Regions from separate parts of the Homo sapiens genome. Here all the other regions are linked to region 3. The links come from fine-mapping of genetic effects on gene expression. A gene starts in region 3. Each other region holds a variant in brackets. All regions are shown on one strand. Distances are between the middles of the regions. Region 1 overlaps LPAR1 (lysophosphatidic acid receptor 1). Region 2 has its middle 97 kb from the start of MIR7702. Region 3 holds the start of LPAR1 (lysophosphatidic acid receptor 1). Region 4 has its middle 80 kb from the start of MIR7702. Region 5 has its middle 38 kb from the start of LPAR1. Region 6 has its middle 110 kb from the start of MIR7702. Region 7 has its middle 30 kb from the start of LPAR1.

The links. PIP is the estimated chance that this variant, and not a neighbour inherited with it, causes the effect. A credible set is the group of variants that fine-mapping cannot tell apart.
Region 1: its variant is the best candidate, but not a certain one, in a credible set for the expression of LPAR1 in whole blood (INTERVAL, PIP 0.75).
Region 2: its variant is the best candidate, but not a certain one, in a credible set for the expression of LPAR1 in blood mononuclear cells (TOPMed, PIP 0.57).
Region 4: its variant is the best candidate, but not a certain one, in a credible set for the expression of LPAR1 in whole blood (TOPMed, PIP 0.79).
Region 5: its variant is the best candidate, but not a certain one, in a credible set for the expression of LPAR1 in monocytes after R848 (Quach 2016, PIP 0.61).
Region 6: its variant is the best candidate, but not a certain one, in a credible set for the expression of LPAR1 in whole blood (INTERVAL, PIP 0.59).
Region 7: its variant is the best candidate, but not a certain one, in a credible set for the expression of LPAR1 in monocytes after LPS (Fairfax 2014, PIP 0.83).

What each region holds. Positions count from the first base shown.
Region 1 is chr9:110,880,183-110,884,251 of GRCh38, forward strand. All of the region lies in intron 5 of LPAR1 (lysophosphatidic acid receptor 1), which reads right to left. Among named protein-coding and RNA genes, the nearest start is that of LPAR1, 160 kb to the right of the region's middle. The variant A/C (reference allele first, on the strand shown) is at 1,998.
Region 2 is chr9:111,172,606-111,176,674 of GRCh38, forward strand. No RefSeq gene overlaps it. Among named protein-coding and RNA genes, the nearest start is that of MIR7702, 97 kb to the right of the region's middle. The variant A/G (reference allele first, on the strand shown) is at 2,034.
Region 3 is chr9:111,036,594-111,040,662 of GRCh38, forward strand. LPAR1 (lysophosphatidic acid receptor 1) reads right to left here and starts at 1,877. Exons shown (of 6, transcript NM_001351411.2): 1 at 1,574-1,877. It overlaps LOC124902248 (a long non-coding RNA gene), which reads left to right and starts at 335. Exons shown (of 2, transcript XR_007061732.1): 1 at 335-1,196; 2 at 2,862-4,069. RefSeq lists a silencer at 1,307-1,646.
Region 4 is chr9:111,189,363-111,193,431 of GRCh38, forward strand. No RefSeq gene overlaps it. Among named protein-coding and RNA genes, the nearest start is that of MIR7702, 80 kb to the right of the region's middle. The variant G/A (reference allele first, on the strand shown) is at 2,352.
Region 5 is chr9:111,074,235-111,078,303 of GRCh38, forward strand. No RefSeq gene overlaps it. Among named protein-coding and RNA genes, the nearest start is that of LPAR1, 38 kb to the left of the region's middle. The variant C/T (reference allele first, on the strand shown) is at 2,232.
Region 6 is chr9:111,159,818-111,163,886 of GRCh38, forward strand. No RefSeq gene overlaps it. Among named protein-coding and RNA genes, the nearest start is that of MIR7702, 110 kb to the right of the region's middle. RefSeq lists an enhancer at 1,253-4,069. The variant A/G (reference allele first, on the strand shown) is at 1,626.
Region 7 is chr9:111,066,600-111,070,668 of GRCh38, forward strand. No RefSeq gene overlaps it. Among named protein-coding and RNA genes, the nearest start is that of LPAR1, 30 kb to the left of the region's middle. The variant C/T (reference allele first, on the strand shown) is at 1,668.

The DNA of each region.
Region 1 (4,069 bases), 160 kb before region 3:
AACAAGCTTTATTCCTCCCTGATGCATCTGTCAAAGCAATCTGTGAGAACCCCAATGCCCACAAAGATGGAGGGAGAGGTGCTGGAATGCAGACGCAAAAGGCAGGGAGGAATGAGGCTGTTTTGGAACAACAGGTCACAGCTGCAGATCGAGATCATATTACCACACCTTCCCTCAAATCTATCCAACCTCATCAGCTGAATAATGCTTACCATCTGGTCTCACAATTACAGTCTTTTTTTCTAGAATGACTTTTTCCTAACTAGTTGAACTTTGCTTACATATGGAATGCAAGAACCAAAGTTAAAGAGGAAAACAGTCCTTGCCAGAGAAGACCTCTAGAGACAGTGTCCAAGATTTTTGATGAAAAACACAGAAAGCGTTTCTAGTCTGGCTGGCAAAGTTGTGTTTTTACAAAAGAACCAGACATCCCATAGATCCAAAACAAGTCAAGGTAAATCAATTCTACAACAGCACTGTGCCCAAGGTGGCCTCACTCTTCTTGTTTTTCAAATGAGGATCCCAGAAACAGTCCCATCTCAGAGACCTGCGGTGGGAATCAAGGGAGAAAATAAATGAGTGCCTAAGTTGCTTTTTCTGTTTTCCCTAAATTGTTTATTCCCTCAGGTCAGGCAGCGTGGTATCCCAGAATCTAATCAAATTTTAGTTCATCTCTGTAGTTACGTTGTGATTTCTGCTATTAAGGTACACACATACTACATAGTTAGCTAGGAAATCCTTCAATGCTATGTATCTTAACAGAGCCTATGTCAGAAAAAGTGGCCACAGATGCAAAGCTTATTCTTCCCCAGTCTTGCAGCTAAGGGTTCATTATAATGGGGGTGTATGTGGATGGCTTTTTGAGATTAACGCTTTTTCTAAAAGAATAACCCAGATTAATTAAAAAATCTTTTTTCCTGACTATTGAAACTATATAATTTACCTGAGGTATCTCCACAGTATTATTGTTCTATATTATTTCCACCCTGATACCAATTTTACTCCATCTAGTTTGGTGTTCAACACTGCCATTCCTTCCTGGTCACAGCACATGTTGCATACATTTAAAGTTTCATGATTTCATTTATTGTATGATGTGCTCTAGTATTTTCATTACTCACTCTTGAGAGCAACATTTATCTTTTAGAGAAGGATAATAACACCATACAGAGCTCTAAAGCAGAGCAGAATACTCATTATGTTCTCTTTTTAACATTCCTGGGTGACAGTTTTAGCTTCATTAGACTCTCCTGATCACCACAATGCTACTTTCCTGTGCCCAAGAGAATGCCAAAGCTGCCTTCCCTCTGGTGTACTCTCCTTAACATTAAGTAGTGTGTATTGCGCACGTACAAGTTCCATACCCTACAACAGACTCTAACTCTCATCCTGCAACTGTACCTTGGAAAGTCCACATTGAAATGACTTGAATGCTAGTGCCATTCTTACAGACCATTCAGGTGCTGAAAAGCCAGGTAAAACCACTTCTCCACTGCTACCATCCTAGCCAAGTGAGCAATACCTTTTATCTGCCAATTGCAACAGGCTCTTAACCAATTCCTCTTCCTCCACACTGCTTCCCTAAAGTCCAGCTTGTACAAAACAAGCATAAATCAATTTGCACTAAGTCACTCTCCTGCTTAAAACCCTCCAAAGTCTTCCTACTTGAAATCCTTACTGCTATCCATAATGCCCTACACATGACTGGCCCTGCTAGTTTCTTGGATCTCATCTCTTTCCACTCGCTCCTCATTTACGAGGTTCCAGTCACACAGACCAAGCCCATTTCTGTCTCAGGATCTTTGCATTTATAGATCCATCTGCTGGGATTACTCTCTCTGCAGCTTTTTATGTCTATTTACTTATTAAATGTCGCTTTCTTAAAAAGGCTATCCTTGGTTATCCTAGCCAGAGCAACAGCCCACCACCATCACCACATTCTCCCATTTTATTATCATCACATGCTGATATACCCAAATGATATATCCTTTATTTAT[A/C]CCCAAAATTATTGTATTTATTGGTTTACATGTTTATTGTTTTATCTTCCCTCAACAAGAATATTAACTTCATGAAGGAAGGAATGCTACCTCTTTCATGTCTGTATCTCTGGAATCTAGAATATTGCCTGGCGACAGCAGACACTCAGTATCTTCCATTGGATGAATTAGCAAGTCATAGCTAAGCGCCTAGTACATATATCCCAAACAAGAAAAATTAATAAGTAGAAATGTCATTAAATTACGGGTGGAAAATAAACATTAACATCTACCGTGTGTAAGGTCTTTAAATGGATGCTATAGGACATTCAAAGGGGCATAAGGAAGACCCTGGAAGACCAAATTCTAGAATGGTGGAACAATTCCTACACACTTTTGAAGGTTCAGAATTTGTATCCTATAATTTTAACCTGTATTACCTGGCCAAATTATTTTTAAGTGTGAGGGTTTTTTAAATGAGTGCACAGATACATAATAAAAGTGCAAGCACATGAATGAGAACAAGCAGCAGCAATTTCCGGACAACTTCTGAGATGACAGGCAGGAGGAAGGAGTAGGGGACGGTGCTTTGGTTATATCTACAATTCTTTTCAGAGACCTGAAGCAAATTATGTAAAATGTTAGCATGTTTGATTTTAATGTTTGGTCATTAGATGATTGCCGTATTACTTTTTGTGCTTTTTATATATTCAACTCACTCATATTCAGATATTTATAAATTTAGAAATTTTAACAACAAGAAACTAGAAGTCTTGATTTTTCTTAAGTAAAAGGTAAGAAGAGGAGGCAGAAGAGTAGAAAGTTTGCTAAAAGTTTTGTCTTGTTTGGGGGCTACTGTAGAAACCGAATTATATCTTGAATTTTATTTTATTTTACTTGAGACTGAGTCTCACTCTGTCATCCAGGCTGGAGTGCAGTGGCATGATCTTGGCTCACTGCAACCTCTGCCTCCCAGATTCAAGCGATTCCCTTGCCTCAGTCTCCTGAATAGCAGGGATTACAGGTGCACGCCACCATGCCTAATTTTTGTATTTTTAGTAGAGTTGGGCTTTCACCATGTTGGCCAGGCTGGTCTTGAATTGCTGACCTCAGCTGTTCTGCCCACCTTCGCCTCCCAAAGTGCTAAGAATATAGCCATGAGCCACCGTGCCCGGCCTATATCTTGAATTTTTTAAAGTACGTTTTTAAAATTTAAAGTTAGCCACTATTAAAAATAGATATTGGATGTACCACTCAAACCACTAAAGAAACAAACAAAAATTTTTTAAAAAGGAAGGAAGAACAAAACAGTTTGAAAAGAAAACTCAATTTATCAAAAGGAAGGAAAAGAAAAGACAGAAGCAAAAGCAAGGAAATGCACACACGTAAATAGAATGTCAAGAATAAGCCCAAACATGTGACTAGATATCATAAATGTGATGCCCTTAATTCTCTTACTAAAAAACAGATTCAACACCATGACTTTTGAACAGATTTTTGTTTTCCCTTGAACTTCTAACTGCTTTTTCTTTTTATTCTCTCTTTTGTTACAGATAAGAAACACACAGTTTATTACAGCAGAAGCATGCCACAGATGTATTTCCAACTTTTTAATTATACAATTTATCCCCAAAGACATTTCCTGCAGCCCGCTGACTTACTAACCCAATCGAACCCATTGATTTCTAGGCCTGCTTCTCAGCTTCCACTGAGGGCTGCTTATTTTACATACCTAGGTGGCACATTGTTTCTTCTAACGTACATCTTTTTTTTGGAATCTCTTTTCTTCTCCCTCCCCCACCCCCATTTTCTAGAGTGTATCCATGAGCATTCTTTCTAGAAAGTTTGCATAAGCTTAAAATCATTTTCTCTCAGAACACTGTCTTCTAGTATTTAGTCTTGCAGGTGAGAAGTCTGATGTATGATTCCCATTCTTTTTGTGTAAAACACCTGCATAGTACGAGTCCTTACTTACTCGCCAAGCTTTGTCTTGCACTGCATGTCTGCTTTCTGGACATATTAGTTTTTCCATTCCTTTCAGTCTATCACAATCCCCCTAACCATGGGCCTTTGTACGTGTTTGCTCTCTCTTC
Region 2 (4,069 bases), 140 kb after region 3:
AAAAATGATAAAACATCACTTAATAAAATTAAATAAGATCTAAATAAATCTTATTTAATTTTATCAAAATTAAATAAGATTTAATTTTATCTTATTTATAATAATAAATTATATTATTGTAATTTATTATCATGCTCATGAACTGGAAGACTCAATATTGTTAATTTGCCAGTCCTCTCCATATTGCTCTAAAAATTCGACATATTCCCAGTCTAAATATCAGCAGGTTTTTATTAGGAAAGATATACAAGATGATTATAAGGTTGATATGGAGATACAAATGACCTGATATAACCAAGAAATTCAAGAACAGCAATGCTGGAGAACTTACAGTACCAGGTTTCAGTAGTTACTACAAAATTACAAAAAACAAGGCAATTGCTATATTGTTGTTAAAGCTAGACAAATAGATCAATGGAACAGACTAGAGAAATAGACCCACACAAATATGAGCCTTTGATTTCTGACAAAAGCACTGTAAACTATAAAACATGACTGAATAAAATTAAGAGCTAAACAAATGGAGAGATTATCATGTTTATAAACTGGAACTTAATTTTTAATATATGGTGCTGGAACAACCAGACATCTTTCCCCCACCAAAGTTAATCTTTATCCATTTTTTACATCATACACAAAAATTAATTCAAGGAAGTATCAGAGATTTAAATGTGAAGACTAAAATTGTAAAGCGTCGGTAGGAAAACATGAGAATATCTTTGCAACCCTGGGGATGACGGATGATTTATTGGGCAATATACAAAAAGGACTAACTTTAAAAGAAAATAGACTGAATCAAAAATGATACTGCTCATCAGAAAGCCACTTCTCATCAATAAAGCCAACAGGCAAGTCACACACTGGGGTAAAATATTTACAATACATATGCCTAACAAAAAAAGATCTGTGCCCAACATACATATTTTTAAATACCTACGAATCAATAAGGAGAAGACAAGACAACTAAAACAAGCAAAAGACTCCATCTGTCACTTCACAAGGCAAAATGTTTGAATAGAAAGTAAACAAATAAAAAGATATTCAATGTCATTATTCACCAGGAAAATGAAAATTAAAATGATGAGATACAACTTCACACAACCAAAAAGACTAAAGTTAAAAGACCAGCAATGGAAGTGCTGATGAGGATATAGAGCAACTGGGTTTCATATCCAATGATGGGAGAGCGGAAAGAAAAATGGTAAAATCACTTTGGAAAGATGTTTGCCAGTTTCTGATCAAGTAAACATTCATCTATCCTACGACCCAGAAATTTCACTCCTACGTATATACCTAAGAGACATGAAAGTATATAGCCACAAAAAGACGTACTCAAGAATGTTTATGGCAGCTTTATTTCCAAAAGTCCAAAATTGGAAATAACACAATGTACATCAAGAGAAAAATGAATCAGCAAGTTATGGAGTCATACCATGCACTGCTATATAGCGATAAGAAAGAGCAAATGATTGATACACACAGCTACATGGGTGATTGTCAAAAAGAGACATGAAAGAGTATTATTATAGGCTTCCATTTTTATGCAATTCAATACCAGGCAAAACTAATTTATGGTGATAAAAGTCATAATGATCTCTGTGTTGGGGCTGTTGATTAGGAGGGAACACAAGGGAACTTTCTAGGAGTGTGAAAATGTTTTATATCTTGTGTGGTAATCACAAGGGATATATACATTCATAAAAATTCACTGAGCTGTAAAATCAAGATTTGTACATTTTACTCTATCAATTACCTCAATGTAAACAATGCTAAAAATCTTTATTGTACGTATTATTCTATATTCTTGACTTCCTGTACTTCCAAAAAAATTTTGATAGGCCCAAAATATTCATGTTGGGGTTTTGCTTGAAGTTGCACTAAATATATAAATTAACCCGAGGATTGATAACATATTGGATCATCCTATTAGAAACATATACTATGTCTCCATTTATTCATTTTTATTTGAGTCTGTCTCTCATTGTTTTTTTTTCCTTAGCTAATCTAGAATTGGTATTGCAGACATTTTAATT[A/G]TATATTTTTCCATTATACTTACCAATGTTGTTTTCATATAGAGGAAAATAATATTGTTATTTCTATTATTTTCCTTCTAGGATTTTGTGTTGTCATTTTTGCTTACATTCAAAATATCACTGAGAAATGGTAATACTATTACCTTGTTCTTGGCTAGAACTGTCAAAAAAACTACCTTTAAAAAGTAACGAAAACCAATGTTCCTGTCCTCTTTATGCGCTTGATAAACATGCCTTTAGCATTTACCATTACATATGATGTTAGTGTTATGAGACAGCACTGTTTGCTACCATATTAGTTTTCCTTGTTTTGTCATGTTTGGATATACAAATTTGCATCTCTAAGTATTAAAAAATACTTATAGAGCTTATACCTGTAATACCAGCATTTTGGGAGGCCAAGGTAGGTGGATCACTTGAGGCCAGGAGTTCGAGACTAGCCTGACCAACATGGCAAAACACCGTCTCTCCTAAATACTAAATACAAAAATTGGCTGGGCGTGGTGGCACTTGCCTGTAGTCCCAGCTACAGGCTGAGGCATGAGAATTGCTTGAGCCTGGGAGGCAGAGGTTGCAGTGAGCAGAGATTGTGCCACTGCACACCAGCCTGGGCAACAGCAACACTCTGTCTCAGAAAAAAAAAAAAGTATAGAAAATGCATCTCCAGAATTTATAAAAATGTTCAAATATTTTTTTCCTTTGATCTAGTGATGCCATGATACATTGTGCTAATAGTGTTTCTACTATTATTTCATATTCTTAAATATCATTTTTCTTTTAACATAGTTCTACATTTGATTTGTAAAATATTGAAGTAGTTTTTTGCCTTTATATAGTAAACACATAGTTTTATTCTTGTCTTTCATAAACATTTTAGGTAGTTTTTTTGCCAAGTCATTGGAACCATGGAATTTTTTTCCTATAGTAAGCATTTTAGCAAGTTTTGCCTCAGTGATCATAAATGTAGAGTTTTAATTTTGTCTGTTTTGTCAGATTTGGCTATCAGTGTTATGCTAGCATTGTATAATAAATTAGGAAACTTTCTTTCCTCTTGTAGACTCTGGAATATTTCATGTGCCATGGCAAATGCCAGTTATCAGAAGGTTTGAAGAAAACTCATAAAATTGACTCAGGTATCCATCTTGGAGAAAATTATTTTGCAATGTTTTGTTTTCACCCTATATATTTAACTTTATTGGCAGTTTCTCTGTTTTGTCTTAATTTCTGTTTCTATCTTTAATTTTTTTCTCTTGCTTTCCTTAGTTTAATTTGAATATTTTCTAACCCCTTGATGAGCGTTAGCTTATTTTCATTCTTCCTTATTTAATAAAAAATGCACCAACAGAATACATTCTGGATATTTAGTTTCCAGCATATAAGATCTGAGATCCAATATCCTCATCATTTTTCAATAATCTCAAATTTGAGTTTTTTCCTACTTAACTCAAGAAAAGAGGCATATTTGTTAGAAATCCTGTTTGGCTGCTATAAATGAGAGATCCTAAACAATAGCGGCTAAAATGAGGTATATGTATGTCCATGCAGACAGTCTAGGGCTGAGGGTGCTTGGTCTTTTTCTTCTTTGCTATACTCCTAGTTTCCACAATATGCAGTTTCCCACCACGATTTCAGATCACTCTTGTAGGTCCTAGCATCATAACCACATTCTATCCCACAGAAGAAGCATAAGGAGGAAGAAAAGGATTTGCAAAGTGTAAGTTGCAAACATCACTGCGACCCACCATGTTGACCAGAATTTGATTGCATGTCCACATCTAGAATCCAGAATCAAGGGATCCTGGGAAATGTACTCTTTCACTGGTTGACCATGGGCCCAATTAAAAATTCTATTATTATATAAAATGACAGCACAGATAAGCAGAGAACTATCAGTATCTGCACAGAGAGTTTTAAAAATATTTTCCATTAGCTGTTTTATTTTAAATTTTTGTTTTGTTTGTTTTTTCTTAGAGACAGGGATTTGCTCTGTTGCCTAGACTGGAGCATAGTGGCATGATCTTGGCTCTCTGCAGCCT
Region 3 (4,069 bases):
CATTTTCCGGATGGGGAGACGGAGACCAGGATCTGAGCTGACCCGACTGGCTGAGGTCGCGCCGCTAGGGGACGTGGTGTACCTTGCGGGCTCGGATGATGACAACCCAGCCTTCCCTCCTCGCTCCTCGCCCGTGCCTTCCTGCCTCAAGCTACCTCCTTCTCTTGCCACTTGGTGTTTTTATCCTCAAATCAGACAAGTATCAAGAAAAAAATGCAACCTTAATATACTTACAATGCTGATTATTATTCATAATTTTGCATTTGGGGCAATTATACTCGCTCCTACTGGGATATGGAAATCAAGGGCAGAAAGAACTAGGTGACATTCTACCTCCCTGTGTATTTTAATGATGTTTAGTTTGGTTCAAATAACCATACCTCTAAAATACACCCTTTTTCCTTGGGACCCACTCTTCTATCCGGCAAGGGAATAACTTCTTAAAAAACTTCGCATTTTCCAAGTGTACAGTCTCCCCTTAACCAGAACTGCAGACTCTGAATCACAGACCTCTGGCTTACCAATTATGCTTAGCTGAGCAAACACACTTATGCAAATACGTGAAAAACAAACTGTTAGAGCCTGAAGGAATAGAGGATTTCGCTGTGATCATCAATATGTGATCATCACATTTTCAATATTTATGTTTACCAATATCTATCTAACCCCATAGGAAACGACGCGTCCATAGTGAAACAAGCCAGCACCCACATTTATGAAAAAATCCACGGATTTCAACAAAAATGAAGAGAGGAGAGCAGAAGCGGAGAGCCACAACCTCAGGCCCCAGACAGCAGGCAGCAGCAAGTCCTGAATGCCTTCACTCTTAACATTGCAAAGACCAAATGGCAGCAAAGAAAAACAAGAATAAACTTTAAATCCATTCACCACAAAGGAGTCCTACGCAAGTCAAAGGAGCCGTCGATTTCAAAACCATCAACTTTCAAAGCCAGGTCCCTCCCTTGCCTTACAACCTCCTGTTACTTGTTAAGCACGTTTGTTAGGCGGCTGGACAGAAACTTAGTTAAAAGTCCTCAGCCCGGTGGTGGGGGACAACCGAGTCGTCAGTGGGAAGCGAGAGGTGCGGAGCCCCAGGGGCGCAGGGACCCCTCGGAGGTGCAAGTCCAGCGGGACGAGGTTTTGGGAGAATTTCGAGGGCCCCTCGCAAGCCCTCCCGCGCACCCACCCCGACCCAGGTAACCGGAGGCCACCTACGTGTCACTGGGCGGGCCCCGGGGCGCACTGACCTGGCGCGGGACAGGAGGGCCGGCGGCCCGGGCGGCTGCGGCAACTTCCCTCCAGGGGCTCGGTCCGCCGCTGGGTGCGGGAGGCCAGGGGAGCCTCGCCTCCTGCAGGCCGGCTCGCAAGAACGCACGGCCACCCACCCGCGCCGCGGCCCACAGCGCGCACCCACACTCTCACTGGCACTCGCACGCGCGCCCCCAACCACAAAGCCCGTCCGCGGCGGGACAGTGTGAGCCCAGCGCGCCGTGTGGCGGGCCGAGCAGTCGCCGCGGCCTCTGGCTTCGCGCCCAGGGGGCGCCGTCCCCACACGCCGCGCCGGCCCCCTTACCTGCGCTCGCTGCCGCCGCGCGTCCCTCTCCTGCCGCCCCCGGGCTGGCTTCAGGCCGCGCGCCCAGTCCCGGCGGCCCCCGCCCCACCGCCAGCCGAGCCCGGCCCTCCGCCCGCCCCTCGGCAGTCGCCCAGAGCGGGGCCGCCCCCTGCGCCCACCCCGCCGGGGTCCCGTGCTCGGCCGGGCGGCGGGGAGGGCTCCGCGGCTCCGGGCCCTGGCCGCCCCAGATCCGGCCCGCGCTCCGCAGCGGGGCTGGAGACGGAGTCGCCACTCAGGGAGCGTCAGCCGCCAGTCGGCCCCTACTGCCCGGCTTTGGCGCGCTGGCAGGAGGAGGGGGCGCAGAGGGAGGGCCAGAGGAGCAGCGCCGACGCCAGCCTCCTCTCTTCCTCCGCCTTCCTTCTTTTCTGCTTGTTCCACGTAGCACAAGTCAGCAACACCCGAACCCCCAGAGTCCGCCCTCCCCGCTCCCAAGCTGGACCCCTTACCTGGTGTGGCGCCCCCAGCGCCCCTGACCTCTGCGCCCCCTCCTCCATTCATTGGCTCGACAGCCCACGGTGGTGGCAGGGCCGGGGCTGGGGGGTGGCCTTAGCCTCCCATTCATTATCTCAGCAGCCTCCCCCGCCCCGCCCCCGAGTCGACACACCCGCAGCGGGAGACCCGTGGCCGCCAGCTCGGGTCCCACCCCCGCCCCTCCTGCGCTTACCCCAGCGCCGGACAGCTGGCAGGACTCCGGTGGACGCCCCGGCACGGGGCATTTTCACGTTGTCGCTCTCCTCTTCCCACTCGAAAAGCTCTGGAAAACATCGCGGGGCCCGCAAAACCCCGGAAATGTGGCCTCTCTTTCGTGGCTCACTTTCTAAACTTTCCAGAAGGCGCAAAGTTTCTCCCAGCGCCGCCCTGCACTGGAGGCTGCGAAGAACGCAGAAGCGGCTTTGCTGCTAGGAAGGTGCATACGTTTCTAGTTCTGATTTTTCACTTCACTGGATCTGTAAACGAAAGCAAGTGTGTCTGCTCCCCTAGTTCTCCATATCCACGATTATAAATTTCTCTTCCGCTTTCCCAGTGTAGCTTTGCAAGTGTAAACTATCAATTTTAGTGAGAGTAATTAAGGGCGGGGACTGCACACCTGGAGGTGTGGGTGGGAGCGGCGCGGGACTAAGGCCTAGGGAACATTCTCAGGAGAGTGGCAGCCACAGGGATTCGCCCAGGTCTTATAACACACCCACTCGATGGGGTCTCCCTAGCCACGCCACCTCACAACACCCATCTCCCACTTCTGGCTTCCCAGGATTTCCGGAGTGATCACAATTATCGGCCTCTCGCTCCACAGCTAAGGCCACCGCATATCAAAAATAGCAGCGTGTGAGTAAAAGTTTCATGAGCCCTCGCCTTGAAATGGCACAGAGGACACAGCACACCAGCAGTAAGGCATGGGGACTCGGCAGGACTGATCTGATTGAGAGAAACGCAGGACAGCGAGGCGGGGCTATGTTGGTGGTGGCCACCAGGTAACCGTGGGCTTTGCAGAAGAGAAAGGTCACTGCAAACCGTAGCTGGACGGAAACTTTTCAAGCCTCAAGTGAGTTATGCTGTGACGGGACCATGACCATCTCCCACCGGTGACTGCTTAGAACCTTGACCAAGCTCGTGTGGTTTTCACAGGATGCTCAGGGCTGAGTCCTGGCTGTAAATAATTTACTATCTAAAGCTGTTTCCTTTTAAAAACAATGGTTCTAATCTTTTTTTTAAAAAAAATCATTCAAATCTTTTTTAAAAATCCACTTTAAATAACTTTGCTTTCTATACCTTTCCTACGAATATATGATTTATTTTATAACCTACTATGTGAAAAAATTGAAATTTTAGTACATGCACAGTGCTAATATGTTCATGCACAATGCTACTTATGTTTGTGTACGGCATGCAGAAATGTGTATAGATATGTATACCCATGAATACAAACCACTCCCTTATCTCACAAATAATCATAGGGGTTGATACCAAACTATAAGAAATATTATATTGGGATGAATAGGCAAATGTTCACTATAAAATCTCAGTATCATAAAAAGTATATATTGGTAAGAAAAAAATATACTCGAAAGAGGTTTCCATATATTTTTAACCATAGCTCTACTCAAGTCAAAAAATCACTTATTAGCTAATTTTCCCGTCTCTTTCTTCCTATACACTGTACTTACTATCAGATTTCTTAACACCAATACTTCTATATCTAATATAAAGACATTTTAAAATTAATTATTTCCATGTTTAGCCTTTCCCCATAAATCAAAGGTAAAGTAAAAGGAGTTTCTTACCTACCACTCAACTTGAATATTTTTAATATGTTGATTTTGTCTCTTACCTTCTTAAGGAATACAGTTGCTTCTGTTTTGACTATCTTAACTACTCTGTGGCCCCTTCTAACATCAAATTGGGAGGCCTGTCCGTACAAGACATGTGTATTCAACAGTAAGTTATTTGCTATAAAACACT
Region 4 (4,069 bases), 150 kb after region 3:
GAATTAGTACAACCACTAAGGAGGACAGTTTGGAGGTTCCTTAAAAAACTAAAAATAGAGCTACTGTATGATCCAGCAATCTCACTGCTAGTATATGGTCAAAAGAAAAGAAATCAGTATATCAAAGAGATATCTGCACTCCCATGTTTATTGCAGCACTATTTGCAGTAGCCAAGATTTGGAAGCAACCTAGACATCCATCAACAGATGAATGGATAAAGAAAATGTGGTACCTGTACACAATGGAGTACTATTCAACCACAAAAAGCATGAGATTTTGTCATTTACAATAATATGGATGTAACTGTAAGTCATTTTGTTAGGTGAAATAAGCCAGGCACAGAAAGACAAACTTCACATGTTCTCACTTATTTGTGGGAGCTAAAAATTAAAACAAATTAACTCATGGAGATAGAAAGTAGAATGATGGTTACCAGAGGCTGGGAAGGGTAGTGGGAAGTTGGGGGAAAGTGGGGATGGTTAGTGGGTACAAAAAAATAGAATCAATAAGACCTAGTATTTAATAGCACAACAGGGTGACTATAGTCAATAGTTGTACATTTTAAAATAACTGAAAGAGTATAATTGGACTGTAACACAAAGAATAAATGCTTGAAGCAATGGATACCCTATTTACCCTGATGTGATTATTACACATTGTACGCCTGTGTCAAAATATCCCTTATACCCCATATATATACCTACTATGTGCCCATAAAAATTAAATAATGTAATTAAAATTTTTTAAAAACATAGTTTAACATTTTTAAATTAGTATCTGCTTAGCAACTTCTACAACAACCTTTCCTGAAAACATACTAACATACTGATGAAGATTTGGAAAACTATGAAACCATTAATAAGATTAATAGATACTATAATGGAAATATATGGAAGGCAATTAATTTCCATTGACTAAAATGCCAATGGAGTTTGATTGAGAAAAAATAATTCAGGCATTCTCAAGCTTCATCATATGAAACAAAGGGCAATGCTGAGTTGAAAGACAACAGGAGATACACTTCATCCTTCACTCTCTCACTCTGGCTCCATAGGAGAGACAGATACCAAAGGCAGAAATAGGAGGAGCCTTGATAAGAACATACAATGCAGGCTGTGATGTTGCACATGCTCTTCAGAGAACAGAGCTAAGAGAAAAAGCATACCTCATTCCAGCAGAATGTGCTCATTAAATGTGTAGAGTACAGTGAAATATTGGCTAAGTGGCACCCAGTGAGACAATGCAAAGACTCAAGGATAATCCACTCATCTTGACTGATGATAAACACCAGGTCTAAATAGCTCTTTCCATTTTTGTAAAAGAAGAAAAAATATTTTTGCTTCAACTTTTTAATTTTGTTTAAATTTAATTTTTTAATTTAAAAGTTAAAAATGTTTTTAAACAGAAGAAAAACAATATTAAGTGGGTTCTATGGAAACATAATGCATCACAAGGAAAAGATAATACACCCTGATGACTAGAAGCGACTTACTTATTCTTACAAATATTTGGTGGAGGCCAGGCACAATGGCTCACGTCTGTAATCCCAACACTTTGGGAGGCTAAAGTGGAAGGATTGCTTGAGGCCAGGAGTTTGAGACCAGCCTGAGCAATGTAGCAAGACCCAGTTTCTACAAAAAGAAAAAAAAAATTAGCCAAACGTGGTGGCACATGCCTGTACTCCTAGTTACTCAGGAGGCTGAGGCAGGAGGATGACTTGAGCCCAGAAGTTTGAGGTTACAGTGAGCTATGATTACACCACTGCATTCCAGCCTGGGCCACAGAGTGAGAACTTGTTTCAAAAAAAAAATGGTGGGAAGCAAAGGAAATTTTTAGAAAACTTGGCATCCTTAATAGGATGCCAGAAGACAGAGCAAATACAAAGAGAGAGAATAGAAACAACTTAGTTCAACAAAATTTGATGCAAAGACAATACTTAGAGATGAATAGGAGGCCAGGTGAGGTATAGAAGAACAAAAAGGAAACTAGCATTGAAAGATAATTAAAATCTACAATGGAGTCAGTTAAGAAAGGAAAGTATATGGCAAAGAAACAAATGTAGAAAATAACCTGAAGAGCCATCCTAAAATGTAGCTGTAAAGACACAGACTGGAAAACTATATGATTTTATAAATATAGAGAAATTAGATAAAAATCCAGTCAAAACATTAGGGAAAGGCCAACTAAATCAGAATAATTTAGAAGTTACAACTTTTCTGAGCTAAAATATATAAAGATTAGATTATGCATATCAAAGGTGATTAGCATATTCTAGGTAAAATTATCAAAAAGAGAGCCATGCCAAAATTTCTGAATTACAAAGATCAAGAAAATATCCTATAAGTCTTCA[G/A]AGTTAGAGGGATGTTACCTACTGTACTAGGGTTTTCAAGAGAAACAGAACCAATAGGAGGGATACATATGATATAGATACATATATAATTAATTATGGGAATCAATTCATGTAATTATGGAAGCCAAAAGTCCTACAATCTGCTGCCTGCAAGCTGGAGAACCAGGGAAGCCAGTGGTGTAATTCATTCTGAATCCAAAGGCCTGAGAACTAGGAGAACCAATGGAAAAGAGTCTGAAGGCCTGAGGGGGTTGGGAGGGAAGAGGAAAAAAAAGGAAGGGTAGAGTAAGGAAGGGGAGTGGATGCTGGTGGTATAAGTCTCAGAGTCTGAAGAACCAAGCAGCAGCTCTGATGTCCCAGCCTTTTTATCTTATTCCAGACCTCAACAGATTGGATGATACCCCTCAAGGCTGAGAAGGGTAGATCTTTACTTAGTCTATCAATTCAATTCAGTCTCTTCCAGAAGCATCCTCACAGATACCCAGAAAAAAATATTTTCCCAGCTATCTGGGTATCCCTTAGCCCAGTAAAGTTGACATATAAAATTAACTACCACACCAACAAAGAAATACCCTGTACCCCCATAAAAAGACATTGTGTGACCTCAAAACCCTCTCCAATAAAAAATGCAAAAAACTAATAGAGAAAAGTCTATAGGATTTCCTAGGGGAAAAGCTGTGACATGAGATTATCTCTAAATGAATAGTTATTCCTGTGTGAAAGAAAAAAATAATCATTCCAGACATACAAAAATTCAGAAAATACAGAATCCAAGTGTCTTTTTTATCTTAGAGTAATTTTTTCCTTTTTAATTATAAAATGTATAACAAATTATTAAAAGAATATTCAAATAATAGAAAAAAGTTACAATCACCCATATATCTCTGGGTTATCTATCCAAAGATAACTTTCCAGTTTCATTTAACAATCTGCCACAAAGTTGTTGTCTTCTATGCCATTGAAAATTCTCCTACAGTGTAATTGGTAAGGTAGGAATTAGATACTGGTTTATTTTAATATGGAAAATAATAAACTGTGAATGTTCCACCATTTATTTAACCATTCTCTGTGACCAATTGTCAGTTGGGCTCACCCTTAGATCAGCACTGGGGAAGTCCAGTGCTTCCTCCCAAGATCTTGCATATTCCTAAGGGATTTAAATTCTTATGGTTATTTCTGACTTTGGGCTCTTGCTTTCCACTGAGTTTATTTTGAATACAATTGTTTTGGCCTGCTGTATCTGATCCTACCACTCTCCGCTTAAAAGCTTTTAATAAAATAATTTTCCATTGCCCTTGTAATTAAGTATAAACTGCTCAGCTCGACTTACAAGTCTTGCCTATGTGTCTAGCCTCATCTCCAGGCACTGCCCCCATCTCACCTGCTCTCCTCCTTTCCCCTGTACTCCAATAATATGAACAACTTTTCAAATGAGTCAAACTCTATCTTAACCTCCAGACTTTTGGCAAGTTGTTAAAGTACATATATACTAATATATTTCTAGGCACTTTGCTAAAAACCTAACAGGTCTGGTCCAGAACAAACAGATCAGTGAAACAGAATATGCAGCCAGAAAACAGATTCTAGTACATATGGGAATGTAATGTGTTATACAGAGGTGTCACATGACACTGAAAATGTGGTAAACATTCTAACAAATGTTGAGATCACTAGCTTCCACTGGAGCAAAAAAATTTTAAGACTGATAAAGTTTGATC
Region 5 (4,069 bases), 38 kb after region 3:
TCCTGATATGATCAACTTAAAACTGTCTAGATTATTTTCTTGTTTGATGGCAGAGAGTCTCTTCAATAGAAACTTCACTTCTATAACAAAAGAATCTGTATTATGTCATTCTTGAATTGCCATAAAGAAATACCTGAGACTGGGTAATTTATAAGAAGTTTAATTGACTCATGGTTCTGCGGGCTGTGTAGGAAGCATAGTGCCAATTTTAGCTTTTGGGGAGGCCTCAGGAAACTTCTAATCATAGCAGAAGGTGAAGAGGGAACAGGCATCTCACATGGCGGCAGCAGAAGCAAAAGAGAGAGTGAGAGGAAGTTGCCACACACTTTACAACAACTAGATCCCACAAGAACTCACTATTGCAAGAGCAGCACCAAGAGGATGGTGCTAAATCATTTATGAGAAATCCACCCTCATGCTCCAATCACCTCCCACCCAGCCCCTATCTCCAACACTGGGGATTGCATTTCAACGTGAGATTCAGAGGAAACACATATTTAAAGCCTATCAGCTTCAGGATAAAATAGTCAGACTTAAAGATACTTCCAAAAGTCTAGGTTATTCTGACTGAATTAGCACCATGAGTTTCCAAGTATGATCTCTGAGAGACTTTGATCGTATCATTGCTTTTGGTCTTTCCTAGTCCTATACCCCACTCCCAGTGAGTGGCCTGTGGATAACTATGAAAGCACACATACACACACTTCCTAAGAATAATAAATAAATTTAAGAAACAGTACAGTCTAAATCATATTTAGAAAAGCAACATTTTCTTAAAGGTTACAAAATCTGCAAAGATCCAACTCTATCCTCAATGATGTCAAAAGGAATAGCAGAGTACTGGCCAGGCATGGTGTCTCACGCCTGTAATCCAAGCACTTTGGGAGGCCGAGGCAGGTGGATCACTTGAGGCCAGGAGTTCCAGACCATTCTGGCCAACATGACAAAACCCTGTCTCTACTAAAAATAACAAAAATTACCTGGGCATGGTTGCACACACCTGTAATCCCAGCTACTTGGGAGACTGAGGCACGAGAATCACTTGAACCCAGGAGGTGGAGGTTGCAATGAGCCAAGATAGAAACACTGCACTCCAGCCTGGGCAACAGAACGAGACTCTGTCTTAAAAAAAAAAAAAAAAAAAAAGGAATAGCAGAGTATTTTAGTTCCTTGAAACTACATGGTCTCTCTCCTCTCCAATCCAGAATAGGGTATTTGTGGTGGTCTTCCCATAACAAAAAAATGTTTGCCTAATTCCCACCATACACACACACACAAAACCAAAGAACTGCTGGAAGTTTTGAACTGACAATGTTTTAGTCAGGAATCAAGCCCTGGAACTATGGGATTCCCCTTCCCTCAGCAGCCTTTCAGCAAGAAATAACTTTTAGCCGTACTCTTGGCCTGGAAAGGAGAGCGAAAGCCTGATATGAAGACAGCAGATGATTTTTTTTCTCCTTACGTAGCAAATCTCACAGGTTGTCACTTCTTTCCCCCCTGTTAAGTGTATTCTTATACCAAGACATTTATTTCCCCACAGGTCTATATCCCTATTTCCTCCCACGGCCATAGAATGTGTAAGAAAAGTAACTTTCTCAAATTTGACCTGTGCTGCTATGATATTCTTGTTTTTGTACTTCCACCATTTTACCTAGCAGTTATTAGAATTTGTTAGTGGGGAAGACAGTAAAAGTATGCTTCTGGTAGGATGGAAAGGAAATCCTACAACTCTCTCTGGACTGTCCATGAACTGAAAATTCTCCAAAAGATGTCTACTTTTGGTTATTTTTACTTATTTTTAAGGATTCCATCTCTGTTGCCCTAAGGGAATAACATTTATATTGACCTTTTGAAAGTTGTGATTTAGCTCCCACCCTAAGCTGAAGAAAGGAAAAGAAAGAAAAACAAAGGAAACCTGGAACCTGTTAGTATTTTTCTTTCTTCATCAAATTTTTCTCTTACTCACTTCCTCTTCTTGCTTACTGGGGATTATAATCCAAGCCCTGCTCACGGGGACTGGTCCTTGACTACAAGAGACAGCCCTGCACTATGCACATTCATCGTTACAACACCAAAGAATCATTAGATGTGGCAGGGCATAGGGGCTCACGACAGCGGCTGTCATTCCAGCACTTTGGGAACCCGAGGTGGGTGGGTCAGGAGTTTGAGACCAGCCTTGTCAACATGGCAAAACCCCGTCTCTACTACATAAAGTACAAAAATTAGCCAGG[C/T]GTGGTGGTGGTGGGAAACTGTAATCCCAGCTACTCAGGAGGCTGAGGCAGGAGAATTGCTTGAACCCTGGAGCTGGAGGTTGCAGTGAGCCGAGATCACACCACTGCACTCCAGCCTGGGCAACAAGAGTGAGACTGTCTCAAAAAAAAAAAAAGAATCATTAGATTTTTAGAGTGAGTTCCTCTTCTTAGTGTAAAGGCATCTCTCTATTTCCTGAAAACAAAAAATGCTAAATCATACCTGAGAGTGAACCCAGTCCTACATACTTCCCCAGGCCGAGTGCAGTGGTGGCTCATTCTTGTAATCCCAGCACTGTCGGGGCTGGGGCAGGAGGATCACTTGAGTACAAGAATTTGAGAGCAGCCTGGGCAACATAGTGAGACCCATCTCAAACAAGCAAACAAACAAACAAATAATCCTCAACTTGCTTCTACAAAGCTCTGTTACTGCAGAGAGTAAGAATCTAACTTTCTCATCCCCAATCTTATTCTCTCAGAGGCAGATCATGGGGAAATATTAAAGACAGTCCTCCTTTGCTCTAGGGTAGAAAATCAGGACACATCAAAATCTCACTACTAGGAAACTTTGGTGGGGCAGCGAATTCTCTGGATACTTGCAGTTTCAGATACCAGATTTAGTAGGGAGTACTCTTGTGTTGTGGGAAGAGAGTAAATTTTATATTAAAAACTATTCTAATGCACATAGTCCTCATTTGAACACTCAAATAAGTTTAGATTATTTCTAAATTGGCATTTACAGTGCATGTAATTCCTAGCTTATCAATCATTGTCCTCACTATGACAAATTTACTTTCCACTTACTGCTGTTTCTCTTAGTGACCGGTTTTTAGCAATAATGTATCTACTTAATTCTTGTTTATATAAAATTGTTGTCATCTCTAATAGAATTATTTCACAAGCTAGGAAGGGGATGGGAGAGGGTGAGATAAAGACAGATTGATTATTGGGTACAAAAATACAGTTAGATAGAAGAAATAAGCCTACTGTTTGATGAAGCAGTAGAGTGACTATAGTAAAAAATAATTAATTGTGTATTTCAAAATAGCCAGTAGAAAATAATTAAAATGTTCCCAACATTAGGAAAAGAGAAATGTTTTAGGTGAAGGATATCACAATTACCCTGATTTGATTGTTTTATATTATATGAACATATCAAAATATTACATACACCCTGAAAATATGTACATTGTGTATCAATAAAATAAAATAAAATAAAATAAAATGAATTCTTTTACAGATTTTTCAGAAGGCAAGTAACTATCTTAAAGTGAATGAAATAACATGGCTAATTCTAACATTGACTAGTTATGTGACCTTGAAAAGTTATTATTCAAAATGCACTTCTATTCATTCAAAATGGATGGGATAAGAGTACCTACCCCACAGTGTTGCTGTGAGGATTATGTGAGGTGACATATATGTGACACTAACTAGCATATAACAGCTGCCCAATAAATATAGTTTCCTACTCAGCATTTTGGGAGGCCAAGGCAGGTGAATCACCTGAGTTCAGGAGTTTGAGACCAGCCTGGCCAACATGGTGAAAGCCTGTCTCTACTAAAAATACAAAAATTAGCCAAGCGTGGTGGTGGGCACCTGTAATCCCAGCTACTCGGTAGGCTGAGGTGGGAGAATTGCTTGAACCTGGGAGGTGGAGGTTACAGTGAGCTGAGATTACATCACTGCACTCCAGCCTGGGCAACAAAACGAGACACCATCTCAAAAAAATAATAATAATAAAATAAAATAAATAAAGTTTCTTTTCAAGATCTTTGGGTGGTGAAACCTTTTGTGACTCCTCTGTTTCCCACTGGGCA
Region 6 (4,069 bases), 120 kb after region 3:
TTTTCACTGAGAAAACAGAAGCAATCAGAATAGGCATTGACATACACCAGCTACCACATCTACTGATATATTGGTATGTGTGCCTTGTTCTTAGCAGTCTGGGGCTATGAATGACCTGTTAGCCTCTGAGCTGAGGCCACACCCTTCACTTGTGCAGTCAATCTCATCCATCTTGCCAACTCAACAACAACACTGCTTCAACAATTGTTCCCTCTCTCTCCTGCATCTTCAATTCCCTGTCTCTGCTCAGTCATTCATACCAGCATACAAAAATGCTAGAAGGTCAAACAAAACCCTCATTTACCCCAGATACCATAACACATCTCTGCCTTTCTTTACTACAAAACTTCTATAAAAGCTTGCCTATCCATGGTGGCGCCAATTCTGCTCTTCCCACCCTCTCTTGGATGCATTCCTACCAGGCTTTCCTCCCAACCACTCTGCTGAAGCAGCTTTCATAAACATCTTCAGTTCATCTCAACCACTTACACTCTATCCCACACACCTCCTGCACTACCACCATTTGACACCTGTACATTTACTTGCTCGTTTGTTGTCAACTAACTAGGCTGTACACTCCATGCACTCTATCCCGAGAGCCCAGAATGCTCTTCGGTACACAACAGGTACCCAATAAATATTTTTTAAATGGGTTTTAGCTTGTGATCATTTACTGTATCAATTACCTCTGTGTAAACAATGCTAAAAATCTTTATCGTACATATTATTCTATATTCTTGACTTCCTGTACTTCCAAAAAAAAATTTTGATAGGCCCAAAATATTCATGTTGGGGTTTTGCTTGAAGTTACATTAAATATATAAATTAACCCGATGAGGACTGATAACATATTGGATCATCCTATCAGAAACAATGTATATATGATTTAACATTTTTTAAAGGCTGCAATTGCTGCCATTAATTTCCATAGGTAAAGATCATCTGGGAAATATTTAAACATTTTTTTTGAAACAAAGAGCAACAAAAGGTAACTCAAGTTTTCAATATCTGTTCACTTAATTCTGATCATGCAACTATCAAGTTGGGGAAAAGAAATACAAACTCAGATACTGGGCTTTAAAATAACGTGCCCCAAAGTCCATGCTATGACCTGGGCCTCTGATGGGTGTGATTGAAAGAGATAGTAGTATCATCAGTAAAGTAAGGCCTACAACAGATTAAAAAAAAAAGATTTGGGATGGAGAGTATGAAATTGTTTAATATTTTGCAAAATAAGCATAACATTAGAAATTGCCTGCTTACTCAGAGGTGAGTAATCTGGCAGTCTCGGATATCTACTACACAATCCAGAATGAGAAATGGAACAACCACAGTCTCCAAATGACCTAAACAGATGTCACAAAGCCCCAGCTTACCGAGGCAGAGTTTAGCAGCTTCTCTCAGAGCCACATGTTTAGGGTGAGGTATTCCAGCAACAGAGAGTAGAAGCAACCAACTATGAGGATGGTACTAGAGAGAGCACACCCCCACACATATACGCACACAATTTCCAAAGGCCTTTGCAAGAACTCAAATGACCTGGTCTAGTCAGCCTTAGCACAGCTCTTCACACCTCAGTAGCTTTTTACACATCAGCAGTGACTCTACAATGCAACAGAATACAG[A/G]GTAGCACCAGTCAATTTCATTCAGAACAAAGATCTGAGGTTGTGAAGATAAGAAGAAGTTATATTCAGCATCTTCTTTTTAAGAAGGCAGACAGATAACTCATATAGTCTAGAAAGATATCCATAAAATCTGGCCACAAGTATTTAAAACTGGCATTTGAGAAGGTAAAATTTCTGGGTAAATATCTGTTAAATAAAATATCTCAATCCCCAATCATGCTGGATAAATGGGACACTAGTGTGCTTCTCTAAAAGATAAAAAAGAATCAATAATGGACTTAATTTTTAAATGCTTGACTCATGCCAAATGTATTTGAGAGGTAATACATACTACAACTCCAGCATCATGAAAGTAACATCTGATGTCAGCAATCTAATGCAAGCTTGTATTCACTGGTCCGGAAGATGGGAGATCGCTTACTTTATTAGTTCTGTGATCTTTTAAAGAAAGAAAACAGTTTTGTGAGTAACTAAATTTGCTTTTTCCGTGTTAGAGACTGGTTTTTCTAAGATTAGCAGTGTAATATTCTCAAAACTGGAAATAAACTAGCAGTACCCAATGAAATTACAATAATCAGGCTATTAATTCTGCAGACCAGAAAGAGAAAGAAATGAGAGCTTAATATTAAAAATTTCAAATTTTTTCCACCCTTATTAGCACTTCTCTTCTCAGATTTCCTTGCTGGCATTACCAATAGTATAATATATTGGATCTTGTTTTTGTCACACACGTGAGGATTTATTTAACTTGAAAGTCCTTCCCAGCTCACGTGGATTGGAACCATAACTAAACACCTTGTCACGTGTTTCTCATTGTGGACAGGCATACACAGCTTTGCAAAGAATAATTATTATTCCAGTGTAGAGATTTTTCCCAGACTTTCAAAAGATAGACTATAGATCTTGAGACACTAAAAAACTTGTTTATGATTTTTAATCAGCAAAAGAATGTATTCACACTTAAGACATGGAAAACAGCTCCTTCTCTGGAAAACAAGAAAAGCATTTGAAAACCAATTTCATTTTTTCTTTGAGCTATATTAAGGTCTATGGTTTTAAAAAGTATGATACAAAAAAAATCCTTTTTTTCTGTACTCAGTAGTCTAAGTATCATAGACATTTTTGCTTTTCGGAGGAATCAAAAGTGTTTCTCTGATGTCATCAGGACCATCACTCTGGCTAAATCTTTTAAAAGTTCCTATGACATCCAAACATATGAAACTCAAGGCAATATATCAAAAGAGGTAAGACTGTAGGCTTAATTCTTCTGATCTATGAGTTATATATGAGCAAAAAGATGAGTTTGAATTCTCCCTTGTACCTACTATCCTAGTGACCTTGAGCTGTTAACTGCTATGCACCTGTCTGCTCATCTGTAAAATGAGGTAAAAGTGTAATCTCTTTCATAGGATTACTGAAAGAATTAAATGAGATAATGCACGTAAACCACCTAGCATAGAGTAAATGTTCAAACATTGTTATCAATGATTAGGAGTGTGACTGTGATTGAGATCCCAGGAAGTAACATAGCTCACTATGAATGCATCTGATTTCTCTTGCTAGCACCACTTACCCGCCTAGCACATAGTCACACAGTATTTCCTTCTAAAATATTTTATAACATCCTGACAAAAGGATGAATTTTAACCTAGATCGATGTTCTTTAATGACCAGAAATGTAATGGTTCCTCTCTATTCTCTTTGATCTAACCTCATTTCTTTCCAATATTCAGAATCAACAAGAGGAGGAAAGAATGAGAACCCTTGGTCATGAACAGGAGAATGTTTTTGACGATTTGGAAACTGGGGAGTATGAGACTTCCTCTTGGGAGAGTTGAAATAGGGGTAACATAAAGTGCCATATGAAGAACATTCAGCCTAAGTGAGAAGAAACAAATCCCGATTTATGTCAATCATTGGCATATAATATTAAGGCCAGTCTAGCAGCTACTTTTTACCCTTACAACATGTCATTGTGCCTTGAGCTTTTTCCATCTCTTTAAGGCAGACTCCTTTCATGTGCTAGCTGTACTTAAAAAGCAGCAGTGAACAGAAAGCAAAATTAACCCAGTATATTACAAACCAAGAAATGATGACAAGAAGGTAACAGCTATACTGCTGGAAGACTGGAAAGGCATCTTCAGGTAAGTTCAGTGGATCCTGAACTACTCTGTAGCCTTCATCCAAATCCTGTCCAAAAAGGAAGCTTCAGTACCTTCTGTTTTCATATCAGGCTTGATAAGTGTGTTTTGTCAATTATAATCAAAGGCTGGCCTTGACATTAGAAAATGTTATTTTTCAAACCAAAAAGAACCTGCAAAGCCCGTTCTTTGTTGTACTTCCTCATCCTCCATAATTATGCCCTTTCACCTCCGTTTTTTTTCTTTTTTCTTCTTCTCCTTTTACTGCAGGATTTATAAAATCTCTGAAACTTGTTGTTTGCA
Region 7 (4,069 bases), 30 kb after region 3:
TGGTAACGAGCCAGGAAACCCGAAAGTAAGCACAGCTGGGATCCATAAAGTCCCCTCCCCTCTTTGATTCAGAGAGAAACATTAAAACAGCTGACCTCTTGCTCCAGCATTTCTTTTCTATCATCTGGAATGTATGATAAATAGATATTTAAAAGCTGACATTGTCCTGGCACCTTTATCCTTCACCATAATTTTACTAGCTCATTATCTTTCAAGAAAGCTTCCATCCTATAGACCTTATGAAAAAAGGCTTAAATATTCCATGTGATACTAGAGTTCTGTGTTAGAAGAGTATGGAAAAAAATCTTTTTAAAAACTGTCAGCTGCAGAAGTGTAATACAGGCAAAGACTGTGGTTGTTTTATTAAAAATAGTTAAAACTCAACTAATTAGAAGGTTGTGGTCCTTTATTGCAATCTGTTACTGAAAAGTTACATGTTGATGAAATTATGGTTAGTAAAAGTATACTTAAATAGTATTGCCAGAGTCTGTAATTTAAAGAAATTGTGTAGTAATTTTTTGGTCAAGTAATTAATTCTTTTTGACATGAAAATATCCATCCTATTGTGTCTTATTTTGTAAATTAAGGTTGACAAAAATTTATTTTTCTTAAAATAGAGGCATGTCTTTCACTGAGTGTTTTGTTTTAAAGGTTGAGATAAACACAAATGCTGCAAGTATGTTTACGTTGCATCAGAAACATGTTAATTATATGTAAGTTAACTCATGAGTATCACAGCTTATAAAAAACATTATGGGGAAAGTGGATTGAAAAATGTTAGTTTGCTTTAGAGTTGTCTCAGGTCATGAGGCTTCGTGATCCAGAAACTAGATACTTCTTTCATGTGAAAAAACTGTTTAATCATCCTCAGTTGGTTTTTAAAATAACGAATTCCATTTTTATTTGCAAAAGTTCACAAAGAAACCCATTTGATTTACTGAATTTAAATAATTTATAGACATAGCTTTCCTAGAGATAGGAAGGAAAAAAATGTAACAACAGCACCCACTGAGAATTATCTTCCAAATACCGCCTCTAAGTCTGGACTTCAGATCAAGATCTGGCAAACACACAGTACTGAAATTGTCAGCTCTCTGAAATAATCACAGCTCACTGTCAGTCAGAGGTTTTGCAATTGAATTAATGCACATTTCTCTCTTACGCAGCAATTCCCCTTTAATTCTTAGTCTTCTCACTCGCTTTTAAAAGAATTTTATTTCTGCCTATACCTCTCTCAGCTGTACAAATCCACAACAGGAAATATAGTTAAGGCACTGAGACTAGTAGGGAAAAAAAAGTGTGTATATGAGAAAAAGAAGAGACAGGGAAAGAAAGCATCAACTTCTGAATAGCTTCAATATGCCCATCCCAAGTCTGATAAACATCCCTTTCATATTAAATATTGGCTGGAAGTACTTTTACATAAAGGAAAAGAGAAGACCTTTTTATGGTTTTGAAAGGTGATCACAAGATGAAAGCAGCCAGCATCGAAGTTCCTTGACTGGAATTCCACCAACACAGATGGAAAACCCGTTGTTGTGGGACTTTTTGTGTTTTGTTTTTTGTTTTTTGTTTTTGAGATGAAGTCTCACTCTGTCACCCAGGCTGGAGTGCAGTGGCGCAATCTCGGCTCACTGCAACCTCCGCCTTCTGGGTCAGAGCAATTC[C/T]CCTGCCTCAGCCTCCTGAGTAGCTGGGATTACAGGCACATGCCACCACGCCCAGCTAATTTTTGTACTTTTAGTAGAGACCGGGTTTCACCATGTTGGTCGGGCTGGTCCCAAACTCCTGACCTCATGATCCGCCTGCCTCCGCCTCCCAAAGTGCTGGGATTACAGGCATGACCCACCGTGCCCGGCCAGAAAACCCATTTTTTAAAAACTCAAATATATTCACAAATAAAAATAAGCCACTGGGTTTTAAAAGCCCTGGCCTGTGTTATGTGGAACATCAGGAACCAATTAAATTGCTCTCCCGTTCTTGTTTATCCTAAATAATACGGTCTTTTCCCTCCTCTGATTATACCAGCTTGTGTCCCTGTGGCAGGGATCTATTCTCTCACTCTCTACTAAAACCCTTTCTCCACAGCACATAAGAGTTGGAAAAGATCGAAAGCCTGCGTTTTATTATGCTAAGGAAAACTAGCTAAATATCCGTCTTATATCTTGTAATATTTTCTTCTGCCCCCAAAAGACAATTGGCAGTTGGTTAATGAGTTGGTGCGTTTGTATGTGAATCACAATATCCAACCGTTGACAATGATTCTGTTTTTCATTTGCTTAAACTTTTCACCTCCCTCCTGAGCTTATAATGGAACATATTCTTCATGTTCTGCTTTTAGTTTTCCTTTTTTAGGCTTGTGCGCATGATTCAGTTCTGAAGGGTAGAGAGCTAGACTTCGTGCCTTATTGTGAAATATGGACTATCAAGTGACATCAATCCCTCCATTTACTGTTTGAGAGCACACCACTCAGCATGTCTGTTTCTTGTCTGACCACTGGGACCACAGCCTCAGTAAAGGTACTATGTCTCATGTCTGCCATCAACAAATTTACATATCTGCCCCTAGGGTATATTCCTAGGAGCGGGGTGGATATTACCCATTGGAAAGAGCTACCAGTTAAGTTCATAAAACCACAAGTCACATGGCTCTTGACTTGTACAATACACAGGCATGGTCATCCTTGTATATTTTCCTATAAAAAACAAATGGAGAAAGAGAAGGAGTTTGAGCCAGTGCCCTTTTGCATCTGTCCAGCGTGAATAACACCACACGAGTCTCAGAGTGCTTAGATAAGCTTGACCTCTCCCAAGAAAAGAGACTTTTTGAAGCTTCTATTCTGTGTGAATCTGAATCAGTGAGCTCAATGTTTAATGTCTTGTTAATGTCCAATTATGCCAGAAAATGACAGATGAAATATTATCTCAAAGTTGGAAAAAATAGCTTTCTTATTATAGCCACAAGATTCCAAAAGCTTAGCTCCACCATCCCAGTGGCCCATCAAGAAACACTTTTTCATTAATAAATACTTACACTGTTCTACTCAGATCATCTAAGTGCCTGTCCTTTCCTATTATACAATATCTTACGGTTTTTTTCTATCTAATTCGACCACCGGATTAAATTATGTACCTTCAGGGACAGTTGATTGGTCATCTGCCTTGCTGTCTCCATGATAGGGCTACTTTTTACACATTTCTAGGAAACAGAAAGGAATAGTTGCCTTTTTAGAAACTGCCTAGTGATGTGGCATCACCAGATCTATTCAGGTTACCTAGTAGACATCATTCAAACTTGAGTGGTGACGAAGTGTAATTGAGGTGGGGGGAGGCAAGTATCAAACCAGGGAAATAAATAAAACCCCTAAATTTGGCCAAATCTCTTCATCGAAGATGACACCTAACCTGTAAGCCTCAGTGTTCTAAACTATTAAAAGGATAGCAGAAAATTAACATCCACTGAGTAGCTACAATGTTCCATACACTTCAGAGAATTGCTTCAATTTTATTCACACAAAATTCTTGCAAAAGACTTTCTGGGCCGGGTGTGGTGGCTCACGCCTGTAATCACAACACTTTGGGAGGCCGAGGCAGGTGGATCACGAGGTCAGGAGATCAAGACCATCCTGGCTAACACGGTGAAACCCCATATCTACTGAAAATACAAAAAAATTAGCTGGGCGTGGTGGCGGGCGCCTGTAGTCCCAGCTACTCGGGAAGCTAAGGCGGGAGAATGACATGAACCTGGGAGGCAGAGCTTGCAGTGAGCCAAGATCACGCCACTGCACTCCAGCCTGGGCAACAGAGCGAGACTCTATCTCAAAAAAAGAAAAGAAGAAGACTTTCTCTCTCCATATATGCATGAGGAAACTGGAGTAGGGGGACAAAGAGAGGAAGAGGAAGAGAGGGAGAAGGAGATAAGAAAGAAGAGAGGAAAAGAAACTCCAAGAAAGTGAGCCCAGTGTACTCCATTAAGTTCTAAGAAAAGAAAAAGGGAAGGGAGAAAGGAAGAAAGGAACCAAATGACTAAATAGGTTAATTAATTTCTCCAGGGCCACTAAAGGTGGCAGGG